Regions from separate parts of the Homo sapiens genome. Here all the other regions are linked to region 3. The links come from fine-mapping of genetic effects on gene expression. A gene starts in region 3. Each other region holds a variant in brackets. All regions are shown on one strand. Distances are from middle to middle.

Region 1 (2,759 bases), 66 kb before region 3:
CGGCGAGAACCTACAAAAGAAAAATTTCTCAACATCTTATTTTAACTCCTAGTGAGGGGGCTGGTGGATGGCCTACCTCGCAGAATCATAGAATTACAGAATGGCAGGGTTGGAAAGTCTCTCAGTCATCTAGTCAAGGTTTCCCCAACTTCCTTGAAGATAGGAACCTAAAGCTCCTGTTTAAAAGCAAACAAGCAAGCAAGCATAGAAGCAAGCAACTAAAAAACAAACAAAAACCAGGTTATTGGGCTCCAACCCAGATCCATTTCATCAGAATTTCCATGGAGGGTTTAGTAATCTCAATATTTAACCACTACCCCAGGGATTCTTATCTTTGGAGAAGTTTGGAAATGCTGTAATCCAACACCCTCATTTTTCAGATGTCAAATTAAGATGCATGTAGGGGAAGTGATTTGTCAAAGTCACCCAGCTGGAGAATAGTTAATATTCCTGGAAGATACATGCCCTACAGTTACTACCCATTAACCCACCCACATATGGATGGTCACGTATTTCCTTAGCAGGCTGACTATGTAGTTGTCCAATGGATTCACAGACAAAGAAGATAGTCTAAGTATTTATGGGTCTTTCATGGCTAATTCCATAGTAAAGAACTTTTTTAATGCACTGTACTATTGTTTAGCTTTCTAATCTCAGAAAGGTCTTTATCACAGTAAAATGTGTTCTCAGAAGTTGGCTGTATTGGGAAATGTAAGACTTTGAAATGCAAATACGCTTTTCTTGCACAAAGGACTCCTGTAAATCAGAGGGCCTCATTTAAAGAGAAACCAACATTTAAACTAGAAAGCAAGATAAAAGCACAACACAAGGATTATGTTTCCTTTCCCTTGGTCATGGGCCAAAGTTTATTCACCATTGTCTGCTCATTACATTAGATCAGTGTGTCGTGAGGAGCCCTGTTATATAGATATTAATAGATGTGCTGCCAATACAGATTTTCCTTGATCAAAGTTTGGGAAAGGCAGCATTAAGCTGCTCTGTCTTAGAAATTCATAAAACATATTAGCTCACTGCTGTTAGGCCCAGTGGCAGAGTAAGAAATAGAATGCTTAGCCTATGGCACAGAAAGGAATCCTTTCTATGGAAGAATGCTGACTTTTGAGAGCTGGTGGCCCCTGCCCTACTCTAGGGATTGGAAGGGCAGCAAGCTCACAGCTCTGCCTCCTCCA[A/G]CTTGGCCGGTTCCTCCTTACCCGTGGACTGCTTTGACCTCCGCACTTCAGGGACCGCCCCGCATGAAAAATAATGGAGGTATTAAGGAACTTTGTCCTCTCACATGTAACCTTATTTTGTGATCACTACTTTTCTGTGAGCTGTACCAAGATGTTCTCCTACTAAAATCTAGTGCTTCTGTATTTCCCCCAGTTTTCAGGAAAATACATTAGGCCAATGGGTATCATTTTAAATTTTAATTTCTTCTGTAATTTTTTCTTAAATATTTGGACCTGCTATTCCTTGTCCCATATAAGCGTACAGTATAGGCCGGGCGCGGTGGCTCACGCCTGTAATCCCAGCACTTTGGGAGGCCGAGACAGGCGGATCATAAGGTCAGGAGATTGCGACCATCCTGGCTAACACAGTGAAACCCCGTCTCTACTAAAAATACAAAAAATTAGCAGGATGTGGTGGCGGGAGCCTGTAGTCCCAGCTACTCAGGAGGCTGAGGCAGGAGAATGGTGTAAACCCAGGAGGCAGAGCTTGCAGTGAGCCAAGATCGCGCCACTGCACTCCAGCCTGGGCACTAGAGCGAGACTCCATCTCAAAAAAAAAAAAAAAAAAGAGTACAGTATAAAGCAATGCATGATTTTCCACACAACGGTGTTAATGGTTACTTGCAGTTGAATGGATCACAGTAGTTCATTGTCGGGCAAAGAGCCCTATGATCCACTGTTACCTACTCCTGCTAGGGCCCACAGACTGAACACTCTGCTGCCTGCCTTTATCGAGGGCTGACACCAAGAGTAGTCACTGGGATTGTGGTCACACAACCCCTGCACCAACTCTCATGAAGATATTGTTGATCAGGTCACTCAGTATTCCTCCTATGAGAATCCACGCTATCAGTTTAGCTGAGACTTTGGTGTCAGGAACAAGTATATATTTTGAAAAACTGAAAAGTGCCTAGCAAATGTAGATTGCTCCTAGATTTTAACGATGAGTAAATGTGTAGGAGTGGGCCAGGTTTGGGGTGAGGGAAGGGAAGAGCAGGGCTTCTCTTTAAAAGTCAGACACCATATGACATTTTGCCTTGGTCTCTGGGAGGCTTAGTTCTAAATTAATGCTTGATGCAATAACAATTTTATCCCAGGTTCCAGTCTCAATTGTTGGCCCCCATCCCAGAGGCTTTATTTATTTATTTTTTGCATTCTATTGTACAGGCGTTTTCATTGGCAACAGCTGCAGACTGTTGTAAGAGGTAGAGTGGAGTGATGTAATCTGGAGTCAGACACATGGTGGTTCTAGTTGGCTGATCCTTGGGCAAGCTGCTGATCTGCTCTGTGTCTTGTTAAATGGGGACTGTTGAGAGGATTTAAAAAGGCAATGCTTCAGCAGTGCTTTGCAGAGCGCCTGGGACATAGTAAGCATCTGAGAAGTGCTAACTGACCGTAGCAACAATGTATTAGTCTGTTCTTGCATTGCTATAAAGAACTACCTGAGTCTGGGTAATTTATAAAGAAAAGAGGTTTAACTGATGCACGGTTCCCCAGGCTGTACAGGAAGCATGGCTGTGGAGGCCTCAG
Region 2 (2,759 bases), 20 kb after region 3:
TATTGAATGTCTACTAATAGTCCAGAATCTGGGGACATACGCCCCTCATTGCAGTCAGAGTTGTATTTAAAACCCAGCTTTCGTCTTGTTCCTCCCTGCTTAAGAACTTTTGATGGTTTCCTATTCTAGAAAATAAAATGAGCTGACTTCCAACCTCTGTCTTCCGCCATCCGCTTCCCCGACCCTGTACTCTAGGCCAGGATTGCTGGTCATTCTTCAAGCCCACCATACATGTTTTCATCTCTAGCTAGAGAGCTGCTTCTCCCATCTGCCTGCTTAACTTTTACTCATCCTTCAACGCCCAGCTCAAAAATACCAGATCTGTGATGTTTTTCTGATCCTCTGAGATGCTCCAGCCACACCTCTCTAACACCACATAGGTCCTTGTTTAGGTCTCTGCCTCCCATTTTGGACGGTGAGTTCCTTAAAGAAAAGAACCCTGTCTTTTTCATCCATGAGTCCACAGAACCTAGCCCAGTGCCTGAAGAAGAATTTCTGATAAATGGATGATTGCACACAATCTGTCGAGGCTGGTCTTTGAACAGAAAAGGGTCTCTTTTCTTCTTTCCTCAAGTTACTGGGCTATTGAACTTCATGCCTTGTGGCCAGTGAAGGGGACTCAATGGTTGAGAAAGCATTGTGGTCTCTTTCTCTGAGCAGTCGTGGAGAGACTGGAGCCACTGGAGCCTCACTTTTGCCCTGGAGGGGGACTTTCAGCAGCAGCAGCAGCTGAACCCACATACACCAGAGGACTGTGGTGAAGGAGGCATTTGTGTTGGGCTTGGCAGGTGGGAGGCCTTTGTGTTCCAGAGCACAAGTGGGTAAGTATGTCGGACAGGCTGCAGGCTGCACACACATGCCGAGGGGCTGGGCCCAAAACGCCTTCTGACCTGGGAAGAAAAGGAGGCATTGTGTGCACTGGCAGCACTCCAAGGGAAATATTCCAGTTGTTCTATTTTGAACGGCTCACTCTTTTAAAAAAGAAAAGTCCAGAGGTGAACATCTCTCTCCCACTCCAAAACATCCTACCTACAAATTTCAAATCATTTGCTACCCTCAAAATATGAATTAATCCATTATTTAAATAATTCATTAATTCAGCTGCTACATCTTTATGAGGCAGCACTATGGTCAGCATTGTACTAAGCACTTGGGAAACAGAAGTAAAGAAGACACGGTCCTCATCACTGTAGGCTCTATTCCTGATTGCTTGCTGGGTGTCTAAATCCTTTTGGAACCTGGTCCCGCCCCTTCTCTTGTGCCTGATTTTTCTCTGCTCCTTGGCAATCCTTCCTTGAGGCTTCTGTCTGCTGCTGCCCATTCTCTACCTCTGCACCCCCGGTCCTGTACTGTGCCATGTTGTGGGGTCATCAGGTACCAGCTCACCACCTTTTCTAGACTCAGGTGGGCACAGACAGAACCAGGCTTCAGTCTGGGCC[A/G]TTAAGAGCTTGGGCAGTTGTCTGGGTGTGTCACTCATGCCTGTAATCTGAACACTTTAGGAGGCTGTGGCGGGAGAATCACTTGAGCCAGGACTTTGAGACCAGCCTGGGGAACATAATGAGAGCCTGTCTTTACAAAAAATTTTTTAAAAATTAGCCAGGCATCATGGCATGCACCTGTGGCCCCAGCTACTCTGGAGGCTGAGGCAGGAGGATCACTTGAACTTAGGAGGTCGAGGCTAGATTGAGCTGTGATTTTAACCACTGTAATCCAGCACTCCGGCCTGGGCAACAGAGCAAAACACTGTCTTAAAAAAAAAAATCTTGGGCAGGAACACCTAAATTCATCCCTAGCTCTGCCTTTTACTATCTTTGTGACTATGACCAAGTTACTAAGCCTCTCTGAGCTTAGGCTTCCTATTCTGTTAAACAGAAAAAAAAAAATAATACATAGAGACATAGAGTCTTTGAGAAGAGTAAATAATAATAGTGTAGTACTTGGCACAGTGCCTAATATACCACACAACAACTCTCAATAAATAATAACAAAACAACTGACTTTTATTGGGCACTTACCAGTTTCTTCCTTCCCTCAAAAACAACAGCAACCACAGCTTGTATTTCAGTGTCTTCTACATGCCAAGTACTGTGTAAGGTATAGGCATGTAGCCATCAGAACAGCCTTATACAGTGGAGAGTGTTACTTTGTACCATTTTATAGCTGAGGAAGCTGGCTTCAAGGGCTAGAGTGACTTACCCAAGGTCACACGGTTTCAAGTGCTGGTGCTAGGAATCATGATTAGGGCTGTTGAGCTCCTTCCCATTCCTCCCCAACCAGACAAATACCCTGACCACACACTTTGCTACTTGGTGCTGGGACCAGCAGATCAGCATCTCTTGAGAGCTTGTTGGAAATGCCAACTATGAGGCCCCACTCCAGACCCACCAAATCAGCATCTGCATGTTAACAAGATCTTCAGGTTTATAGGCATACTACAGTTTGAGAAACAATGAACTACAGTTTACCAAAGATTTTTAACAGTAGGTTAGAACAGTACTTCTCAAACTATCGTGTGCATAAAAATTACCTGGAGGGCTGGCTGGTTAGAACACAGATTCCTGTGTTCACTTCAGCAGCAAATATACCAAAATTGGAATGATACAGAGACGATCAGCATGGCCTCTGCACAAGGAATGACACAAAAATTCATGAAGCATTTCATATTTAAAAAAGAAAAAGCCCCACAGATTCCTATCCCTGTGATTCTGATTTTGTATCCATTGCTTATTATTGACAGGGAGGACCATCGTGCTCCCGAG
Region 3 (2,759 bases):
AGTGCTGGGATTACTGGCGTGAGCCACCGTGTCCGGCTGATGGCTTCTTTTTCAAAATGGGAGGATCTGGCCACATGAATCCCTTTCCCTAGATGACAAAATAGACTGAGCTGAGTAGCAGCAGCCCCTTCCCTTGGGCAAGAACCTGGAGCTGCTATCAAGCTCACCACAGTCCCCACCACTCCCTACTATGTCCCAACACTGGGACCAAGTCTCTGCTGCCATTTATTATTGCTCTGGGATATTGATTTGCTCCAGTGGAGCTCTAGTGGAAGTGAAATCGTTCAAATAACCATATTTCTATAAAAACGTAAAATGAAAGTCCTAGAAAGTACTCCCCCATCTGGGTCACAATGTCAAAAACGAAACCCCTTTGCCTAAGTGTTAGCCCTTGCCAATGGGCCCATGAAGGATGCCCATTGTGGGGGTCAGAGCTGGCATCCGGAGTCTTACGGGGTCCACGGCCCTCTACTTGCCTATCTCTGTTGTCTTCATCTGTAAAGGAGGAGTAGCAGCAGCTCCTTTTTCCTAGGGTTAGGGTGCACAACGCCCACCAGGCACTTAGTGAACTGTTCATTCAAGGTTAGCGGTTGAAACGCAAACATTTTGAACTGATAAAAAACTCTGGTGGGCCGGGCGCCGTGGCTCATGCATGTAATCCCAGCACTTTGGGAGGCCGAGGTGGGCGGATCACCTGACGTTCGAGACCCGCCTGGCCAACATGGTGAAACCCCGTCTCTACTAAAAATACAAAAGTTAGCTGGGCGTGGTGGTGTGCGCCTGTAGTCCCAGCTACTCGGGAGGCTGAGGCAGGAGAATCGCTTGAACCAGGGAGGCGGAAGTTCCAGTGAGTCGGGATCGCGCCACTGCTCTCCAGCTTGGCCATAGAGCGAGATTCCGTCTCAAACAGCAACAACAACAACAAACCTTTGGTGGGAGGTCGGAGTGTGAAATGAAAGACTTAGGGTTCCTGAGTGGGACTACAGCAAGGATTGGGAAGAAAAAAAGGAGATGGAAAAAGACGATTTAGGAGAGGTAAAAGTTCTGTTACTAGGACCCCAGCCCTCACTGGCCCACATCCGCTGGCGAGGACCTAACTTACTGCACCCAGCTTCCCAGTGGCCAGACCTAGGTTCCAGTCCTGGCTGGGGCAAGTCATTACCTTGTCTGGTGCTGTTTCTGCACCTATCAAATGAGGATGGAAATGTCTAGATGAACCGAGATAAACGCATACGAAAGCACTTTGGGAATCTGAAAAGCGCTATGAACAGGTTAGGAGTTTTTGGTCTCTTTTCAAAAAGTTTTTCTTCTAAGCTCATGTTTATCAAGGGCTTTTGAGTTTATCGAGGCTAAGACCCTCCCCTCGGTTTCGCAATTCTGCCCCTTCCTACACACCAAAGTCCGCGCCGCGTCAGGAGTCTTTTTTTTCTCCCCTAGCGAAGGCGGGGACTCGGGCGCTGTTGGCAGCTGGCGACGCGGGGCGAAGCCGCGGCTGGCGGCGCCTGGCCAGTCCCGCATCCGCCGCGGTGGGTGTGCCCGCAGGGGTGCGCCGGGGCCAGGGCCGAGACCGTCGGCCAGAGGGCGCCTGGAGGGTGTGCGCGCCGCGGACGACCAGGGTGCGCCAGCCCCGGGGTGCGCGCCTGGGACGCGGACAGTGCACCCGGAGGTTGCGTGCGCTCCGAAGCCGGGGTGTGCGCCTAGCTGCCCCGGCCCCGTGCACCGCGGGCCGCCTCGCGCAGGACTTCCGCAGCTCGCCAAGGTAAGGGACTCTGCGACCCCAGTCCCCCGCAGTGCGTCTGCTGGGGTGTTCAACACCCGCCCTGCGCGACCCGAGTGTTGGCCCCGGCGCTCGACCACTCTCCTCTTGCCTCTGCCACCCGCCTCGCCCAGTCCCCAGCGCCGCGTCCCCGGCTCCCTTTAAAGCAGTGGCTGCGGCAGCTTGGGCCGACCTGGCGCCCCCGCCTCCCAGCCTGGGGTCTGCGACAGAAAAGGAGCGGGGCTGCTCGGGCTGCCCAAAGGTGGGCGCCGCTCCCTTTCCAGCCCAGATTGGCTCTCCGCGCCCCAATTCTGGGGGTGGAGAACACTGGTGAGGAGGGGGAGGCCGTGCTGTCCTTGCGACTCAGGTGGTGCAGCCCCCGCCCAGCTTTTCCGAGCTAGGCGCTGCGGTCTGGGATGCAGCCTGCGGGACTGGGCGTTCTTTGCCGCGGGCTCCCACTGCTACCTGGAATCGAGCTCTTAGTCTCTCTCCTGTCGCAAAAGTCTCCCCGTAGTGCCAACCCTGGCACTCCTCGGCCCCTGGCTGAACTTTCCAGGGCTCCCTTTGGGCCGCGACCTTGGGCGGAGGCAATGGGGCAGCTCCGAGTGCTCTAGACGCCGCCGAGGGCGCTTTGCCCAGCCCGCATGCCTCCTGTGGGCTCCTTTCCCTTCTGCCTCTCCGGTAAGGTCAAATCTGTGACTGGGTACTTTGACCCCGCAGACTGGCCAGAAATGGGAGTTGGAAAGTCGAGCCCATGGCCGCTACGCTGGGTCTGAACCTAACTCTTGCCCTGGGCATCCTTCGGGGCTGCCAAACTCAAGTCTTAGTTCCTAAGCGCCCTGGAGTGCAAGCCTTTAGGGCAAAGAGGGAGTATTTTCCAGGAGAGGGAGGAGGACCCCCTGAGGCCTGGGCAAAGTCCTATCTACCAAATAGGGCCAGAGGAGGATCAGATGCAGCCAGTGACCCGGCTGAGGCATGGGGAGAAAGCATCTTGAGTTAAACA

Which allele goes with the higher level. Alleles are on the strand shown, and positions count from the first base shown. SD is a standard deviation of normalised expression in the study named.
As copies of A replace G in region 1, the expression in subcutaneous fat of the gene that starts at base 1,431 in region 3 goes up (small effect, 0.14 SD a copy in GTEx).
As copies of A replace G in region 2, the expression in amygdala of the gene that starts at base 1,431 in region 3 goes up (moderate effect, 0.57 SD a copy in GTEx).

What was found. PIP is the estimated chance that this variant, and not a neighbour inherited with it, causes the effect. A credible set is the group of variants that fine-mapping cannot tell apart.
Region 1: its variant is the best candidate, but not a certain one, in a credible set for the expression of KANK4 in subcutaneous fat (GTEx, PIP 0.65).
Region 2: its variant is the best candidate, but not a certain one, in a credible set for the expression of KANK4 in amygdala (GTEx, PIP 0.73).

Annotation. Positions count from the first base shown.
Region 1 is chr1:62,384,515-62,387,273 of GRCh38, reverse strand. No RefSeq gene overlaps it. Among named protein-coding and RNA genes, the nearest start is that of USP1, 51 kb to the left of the region's middle. RefSeq lists a silencer at 202-496. The variant A/G (reference allele first, on the strand shown) is at 1,191.
Region 2 is chr1:62,298,058-62,300,816 of GRCh38, reverse strand. The region is part of intron 1 of KANK4 (KN motif and ankyrin repeat domains 4); the gene reads left to right. It also overlaps the pseudogene RNU6-371P. Among named protein-coding and RNA genes, the nearest start is that of KANK4, 20 kb to the left of the region's middle. The variant A/G (reference allele first, on the strand shown) is at 1,440.
Region 3 is chr1:62,318,106-62,320,864 of GRCh38, reverse strand. It overlaps KANK4 (KN motif and ankyrin repeat domains 4), which reads left to right and starts at 1,431. Exons shown (of 10, transcript NM_181712.5): 1 at 1,431-1,759. RefSeq lists enhancers at 1,391-2,113, 2,114-2,759.